Homo sapiens: one gene and its partner. The protein of the gene in region 2 interacts with the protein of the main gene of each other region in a pairwise test. Each region holds a gene or a part of one and is shown on either strand. Other genes may lie near its edges.

Region 1 (3,654 bases), on a different chromosome or scaffold from region 2:
GCACTTAAATGATTGTTTAATTATAGGCAATTTGGGGTATTAATGAAAGCCCTTGGGCCCAGTTAGTGGTTAATTATTCTTGTTTTCTATTATGAGATTTGTAATGAAAACTATTACTCTGTTTATTAATATTATTAGTTGCCTTGTGTTGCTGCTAATAAATATTTGGGTGCAAGTGATGACACAACAAATCTCTTCCTTCCCTCAGGCCAAAGGAGGCATCCGTCCTCTTTTAGTTATTTCTCCTGGGGTCTGTCAAAGGAGCAATTAGAGGTGAGAGCCTATGCAACTTTGCTGTATTCCACAACTCCATCTCTGCCTCAAAGGAGCACCGAGCCTGAGGCTTGCATAAGGATGAAGACATGGCATTGTGTGCAGTCTCCCCTTGGGCAATTTATCTGCCCATGCCCCTTGTGGTGACAGGTGGGCATTGCAGGGTGTGGCCTTACCCGTCGTGGAAGGGGTAGCCCCATGTACTATTGGCCATGAGGCATTTAGGACCCTTGTTGATTGAAATGGCTGAGATGATAAACGAGTATCCAGCTCCCAAGAATCCAACCACAGCAAATATCGTGGAGGTGAACATCTGAAAGAGAGGAAGAGAGACAGTCACATTCTCCAGGTGGTCCAGAGGATACACTCAACAAACCTAATCCACCTGCTGTTGAACATGGTGACTACAAGAAGTTATGGAGTAGGAGCTAGTCTTTATAGTAGATGGGGCCTGTGGGGTCTTCTAGAATGAATTTTGGTGTCTTCTTTTCCCTTCTTCACTCCCATTTCCATTTCTTTTTCACCTTTTCATTGATGACAGAGGTGTTGGTTCTGTTACCTTTGAGCCATGGCCTTTTAACCTTGTTAAAGATAAACTCTCCTCCCCAGGGCTGATATATAAAGCCAATCTATTATAGAATCAAAGAACCTTAGGATTGGCGTAATCTTTTTTTTTGAGACGGAGTTTCACCCTTGTCGCTCAGTCTGGAGTGCAATGGTGTGATCTCAGCTCACTGCAACCTTCACTTCCCAGGTTCAGGGGATTCTCCTGCCTCAGCCTCCTGAGTAGCTGGGGTTACAGGCGTGCGCCACCATGCCTGGCTACTTTTTTGTATTTTTAGTAGAGACAGGGTTTCACCATGTTGGCTAGGCTGGTCTTGAACTATTGACCTCAGTTGATTCGCCTGCCTTGGCCTCCCAAAGTGCTGGGATTACAGATGTGAGTCACCGCACCTGGCCTGGCAGTAATCTTAAGTTTTCTGGTCAAATTATCCTGCTAAGGCCAGTCACTGTGATGTCTCATGTGACAGGCAGGTTCTACTTATGAGAAAGAGTAAAAGTTTAGAACCCCTCCTCATTGGCCCTCATTATGTTCCTCGAGGCCAAAAAGATCAAGTCTAACCTGTCTTCCATTTGGCATCAGTCTTTAAAATATCTGAAGATTGCCTTGACATCTCTCACCCCTTCCACCCTCGGAGCATTTTCTCTTCTTTAAGTTAAACAATCAAAAAATTCCATTCTTTTAAATATTTTTCTATGATGGAGATTAATGAAAAACAGATTAGACTACCATATTTTGTTTTCAATTATAAAATCAAAATAGAATTATTGACTGCAAAAGGCAGAAGCAATCCTGGAACCCAGCTAGGTTAACTCCCTCTTACGGATGAAAAAATGTAGGCCCAGGATGTTAAGAACTTTTGCAATATCCATTCTAGACAGTAACTAGAAAGTAGAATGAAAACATTTAAAATTTTGGAAGAAGAGGCAGAAAACGATCACCTCTGTTGCTTTGATGACGAAGCACAGGGTTTAAAGTCAGCAGACCCAGACCCAGGCTCATATCTCAGCTTTGCTAGTCTTCTCTGTGTAATGACTTTGCATAATGAATGTGTCCTCAGAGCCTTAGTTTTATCATCTTAAAATGGGCATGATAGAGCCCACCTTAAATATCTGTTGTGAAAATTAGACGTGGCAGCTTAAGCTAAATGTCGGCTATTTTCCCTTTCCCCTTTCATGTTATTAACAATATTATCATAGTACATATCTGGGATGGGGTAAGGTTTGAAGGTGAAGAGGACCTGATCGTGCCTGGGTGATTGGAATCTATGTAATAATGGAGTTCTACTTTAGCTGGGATTCATTTTCATATCATATATCAATGTATTTTGGATGCAACTTTTAAAAAAAGTCTTTTTAATAGAAAATTTAACTCTTTTGCCAACTCATCTGATTGATGCAACGTTTTAATACCAAGCTCTATTCATGTGCTTTGTCTGACTCTCCTTGTAGAACTGACCCTTCATTCTTCATCTCTTCCAACCCCTGTACTCTAGATTGCACAAATTTCTATCACAGCACAATGCCTCTAATACAATAATGCATAGGTTTTTTTGTTTTTGTTTTTGTTTTTGTTTTTAGACAGGGTCTTGCCCTGTCACCCAGGCTGAGTGCAGTGGTGCAATCGTGGTTCACTGCAGCCTCAACTTCCTGGGCTCAAGTGATCCTCCCACCTCAGTCTCCTAAGGAGCTAGGACTACAGGCATGCACCACCATGCCCAACTAATGCTTAGCTTTTTATGGCTGTCTTCTCCAAATAGAGCACAAGTTCCTTGAAGTCACAGACAATAAGTTATTTGAAGATAGGGCATTTTTCCACACTTAGCATAGTTTTACAGTTTTCCTTCTTCCTAGCTTATCAAAGGCACTGGATAATGACTTGTTGCATGTTTTCAATGACTAAGGTTTCATATTACTAATTGTTTAGATTTTTCCCCTTATTGTTTATGTTTAGGGTATCTAAATCCACTCTCAGCATCCAGAACATTCATGACTTTAACCTAGGTCAGAAGTAAGTGAACATTTTGGTAAATTTCTCGTGTTAGAACAGGCAATCTCTTTTCCAAAGGATGTAAGGTTGAATAAGTTTGAGAATTGCTGGATTACATAACTAAGTTTCATTCCTGCTGCACTTCTAAAAATATAGTACTTATGAAACATGAATTTGTGTAAACTTCTGAGAAGGAAATCTACTACATATGCTGGAATATAAGGAAAATCATTCACTCTCACATTATTCCTCAGAAATGAAGGAATTACCTTAGAGTTGAGTCCTTATTTCATCTATCAGGTAATAATGTATTTCCTCAAACACTTTATTTTGAACAACCAAGTACTGCCTAGAGAAGACATCAGTCAGAAACAACTCAATCATTGTTAGATGACAGAATTGTGTTAAAAATTTTTTCTTAACACATATTTATTAATTATTATAAAAAGGTTGAACCCATAGTTCCTAGTTCTGGATATTATAGTTAACAAGGTATTCTAGGCCTTGTTATAGTTTAAAGGGTATTCTAGGCCTAGCGTGGTGGCTCACGACTGTAATCCCAGCACTTTGCGGGGCCGAGGCTGGTGGATCACGAGGTCAGGAGTTCCAGACCAGCCTGGCCAATATGGTGAAACCCCATCTCTATTAAAAATATATAAAAATTAGCCAGGCACAGTGGTGCATGCCTATTTTCCCAGTTACTCGGGAGGCCAAGGCAGAAGAATTGCTTGAACCCGGGAGGCGGAGGTGGCAGTGAGCTGAGATCACGCTACTGCACTCCAGCCTGGGCAACAGAACGAGACTCCGCCTCCAAAAAAAAAAAAAAAAAA
Region 2 (3,754 bases):
ATCCAAAGAGCATTCTTGAGGCCCGATTATACACCTGTCTCATCTCCCTGTCTCAGAGGCAGGTGACGAGAAGGGGAGGAGGTATCTCCATCCAGCCCATCAACCAACTCCAAACCCTGTGCTCATTCTAGACCCTCCCCAACACCTCCTTGCCCTTATTCCCTGTCAATTTGCCTCTCTGTAGGTCTCTGCTTGCCCCGCTCTGTTGGACCTGTCAAGACCCTCTTTGTCTCCTGCCACAGCCTCCCTTCAGCTTTCTCCATCCAACACCAGCCCTGATTTTAGAATATCGCCCTACCTAAAACCCACCAATGAACAAGAATGGCAAATTATTTACCCTTGTGAAGGCTGGGTAATAGGAACATGGAGGATTATTTTATTATTCTCATTACGTTTGTGTATGCTTGAAGTCTTTCATAATAAAACGACTCTCCGACGACCTCCAGGGATCTCAGGGTAAAGTCCGAAGTCTGCAGACTGGCATTCAAGACCCCTCAGGATTTGTCTCTACCCAGTTTAACCAGCTAACCTCCTGGCACTCACCATGCTGCAGCCTGTTTTCCCAGCCTTTGGAACTCAAGTCTCTCTTGCAGCCCTAGTTTTACCCCATGCATCTTCTTTTTACAGAACACATTTCCCCTTGTGCCCTGCCTAGAAAACACCTCCTAATCCCTTGGAAATCTAATGCAAATGATCCCTGGTCTGGGTCACCTTCCCTACCTTCTGGGGGCAGGGAAGAGGGGGCCTCCTCAGTCCTGATATACAACAAATACCCAGTATGTGTTTAGGAGAGACCAGAATGTCTTGGCTAATAGAACGTGTGCAATATTTACTTGAACTTAGGCAAGTAGGGTAATCTTTCTTGGCTTCTGCTTCTGTCTCTATAAAATGAAGATAATAGCGGTACTTATCTCACAAGGCTGGGGTAAAGATTCAGCGGTATTCTCTGTGTAAACAGTTTAACACAGTACCTGGCAGAGAGAGGGGGAGAAAGAGGGAGAGAGGGAGAGATGCTGACTGACTTACAGACAGACATACTTCAATCAAAGAATATAGTGGGTAATTATGTGGCTTGTCTTAAATGAAATGCTTCCAAATCCCACAGGGAAAGCACTGCCGCTTAGCTCTTCCTGGGAGCTAGAGAAATTCGTGGAAAATCGTTGACATTAAAGTCACGATTCCTTTCTCGGGCTCAGGGGCTATTCATACTTTGGAGGGTTTTCAGAAGTCGAGGGGAGTCCCGGGCCCTCCTATTTGGAAGAATCGGAAGGATAGTGCAGGGTCTGTGCCTGGGAGCTGGCCCGAAATCAGGGGGCTAGGAAGGCACGGGGTTTGCACGAAAATCAGCCCCGGTGACAATCCCCAGTCTGTGAGCTCTCGGTGGACTCGGGGCCCCAGGGGTGGGAACCCGGAGTGAGAAAATCTGAGTGGGGTCTGGTGCACGGCCCCCCACCTGCCAGCCCCGCTCCCTGGGCTGCGGCGGCCTCGTGCGTCACGGGCGCAGGCGGGGGCCGAGGGGAGGGCGGCACCGCAAGGTGAGGGCACCGCGCTGCCTTAAGACGCCGCGCGCCCCCGCTGCCTCTCAGAGCTTGCAGCGCGGCGCGCTGGCCGGACGTGCGGGCACAGACGCTGTGCCCCGCTCCTGCCGCGCCCGCAGCGCCCGCTGCCCCGTGCCAGCTCGCAGCCGCCCGAGCCCCGAGAGGCGGCCGGGACGAGCGCGAGGAGCCCCGAAGGACCTGCACGCGGCGCCCGCGACGCCACGTCTGCAGCAGCAACAGGTAAGCAGCCCGGCCCTACTCCGGGCTCCGTGGCCCCCAGCACCCGGCAGGGCCCCGAGCCTGGGAGCCCACGACGCCCCCTCTGAAGCGTCCCGACGGCTGCTGAGCTACCAGGCGCGGTGGCCCGCGGTGCGGCCCCTTCTCGCCTTTCCCTAGCCATCCTCCCGCCCTCGCGTTTTCTCTCTCACTTTTTCTCGTGCGTTCTTTTCCCCCTTCCTCTCCATTCTCTCGTTTTTTCCTCATCCTTTCCCTCTTCCTCTGCTTGTTCTCTTTTCTTATTATTTTTTGCTTTTTCTGTCTGCGTCTCTCCCAGTCTGTCTTGCTCTCTCATTCTCTCTCACTCTCACGCTCCCATTTCTTCTTTTTTCTTTCTTTCTCCCTCTCTGTTGCTCACATTCTCTCTGTCTCTCTGTATGTATCTCATTCTTTCGCTGTCTCTCATTTCCTTTTTGTCTCTCTGCCTCTCAGTCTCTCTCGCCCTGCCTTTCTGACTCTCTCCACCACCCTGCACCCCTGCCTCTTTTGCCTTTCTCCCCAGCTCCTTTCCCACTCCCCTCGGCTGTCACCGACACCAAGCAGATCCGGAGAAAGCAAAGAGGATGCCAAATTGGGAATGGGGATGGGGCTGTGGAGGGTGAGGGTAGGGGAGCTCAATAGGCATCCTCTCTGCATTTTCCAGTCTCCATTGCACTGCTGATAAACTAAGGGTTTTTTAACCAAAGCCCGCGGTGGCCGGGGCGGCAGGTGGTTTCCACGGCAAAATAAAGTCCACAGGGAGACAGAGATCCAAAGAGACAGAGATCCAGCCAGAGAAAAACCAAGGTGAGGGGCCATGGGAAAAAGATGTAGAGAAATAGAGATGCGCACACACTCAAAGATACAAAGCAAGTGTTTAGCCAGAGTCCTGGGGTGACAGGAAAGTGAAGGACAGAGAAACCAACGAGAGAGTGCACACACTAAAGAGATAGCTTGAGAGACAGGTGAGACAAGCAGTAGAGTGTTAGAGATCAATGGAGAGAGAGGCAGAGTAATGCAGAGAGAACTTAGGCAGGGAGAGACAGAAACCACACGGAGAGACACAGAGACAAGAGGGTCCGAGAAAGACAGAGCAAGCGCACACGTGCCAGTGAGAGACAGAAGGAGACACCCAGAGAACCCGAGGGAGACGCAGAAACAAGAGAGTTGGAGAGACACGGAGACGGGCAGAGACACAGCGAACGACATTGAACAGGTGCGCTAGGGACCCACAAAGATGAACTGCTGGGGAAATAGACTGAGAGAGAAATGGAGAGACAAGAGAGCACTAGGGAAAGACGGAGACACACATGAACTAGCGAGCGACACAGTGACAGGCAGAGACACAGAGAGACAGAATGGATCAGAAAGAGACTGAGGGAGAGACGGGCAAGACTGTGAGAAAGATAGGGAGCGAGAGCGCAAGCCCTGCAGAGAAAGTGCGCTAGCGAAAGAGACACACACAGAGAGACTGAGTGACAAACAGAGTGGAAGAGATAAATGAGAGTAACAGGAAAGAGACAGCGTGCACGTGCTATCGAGAGACGGAGAAACAGAGACAGACATAAGTGAGAGACAAGGATGAGAAAGAATCAGGAAACGGTGAGACACATACAGACACACAACCCGAGAGATAAAGAAAAAAAGTGCGCTAGCGAGAGACACTGGAGAAGAGACAGAAACTGACGGTCGTAAACAGACAGAAACAGAGAGCGCACGCGCATGCGCTAGCGCTAGCGACCAAAACTCCCCGGAGCCAGAGACAGTGTGAGAGACAAGCAGAGAAAGCGCACGCACGCACGCGCCAGCAGGAGAAACAGATGAGAGGAAATCAGAGCCCTGGAGAGAGACAGGCAGACAGATCTGGAGAGTCCGGAAAGGAGCCATAGAAGCTGCCCGCACTGGGGATGGAGCCGTGCGGAAACCCGGGGTAGGGGGTCCTGCAGCGTCCTTGCTGGGCG

What was found. The genes of interacting proteins can lie anywhere in the genome.
Region 1: the proteins of GPR101 (region 2) and TM4SF4 interact in binary tests that used the Homo sapiens proteins (3 or more experiments, as listed by UniProt).

What each region holds. Positions count from the first base shown.
Region 1 is NC_000003.12:149,484,551-149,488,204, reverse strand, and holds part of TM4SF4 (transmembrane 4 L6 family member 4), read right to left. Parts: intron 587-3,654; coding exon 450-586; intron 1-449. UniProt on the Homo sapiens protein: Regulates the adhesive and proliferative status of intestinal epithelial cells. Can mediate density-dependent cell proliferation.
Region 2 is NC_000023.11:137,031,826-137,035,579, reverse strand, and holds the start of GPR101 (probable G-protein coupled receptor 101), read left to right. Parts: upstream 1-1,584; 5' UTR 1,585-1,778; intron 1,779-3,754. UniProt on the Homo sapiens protein: Orphan receptor.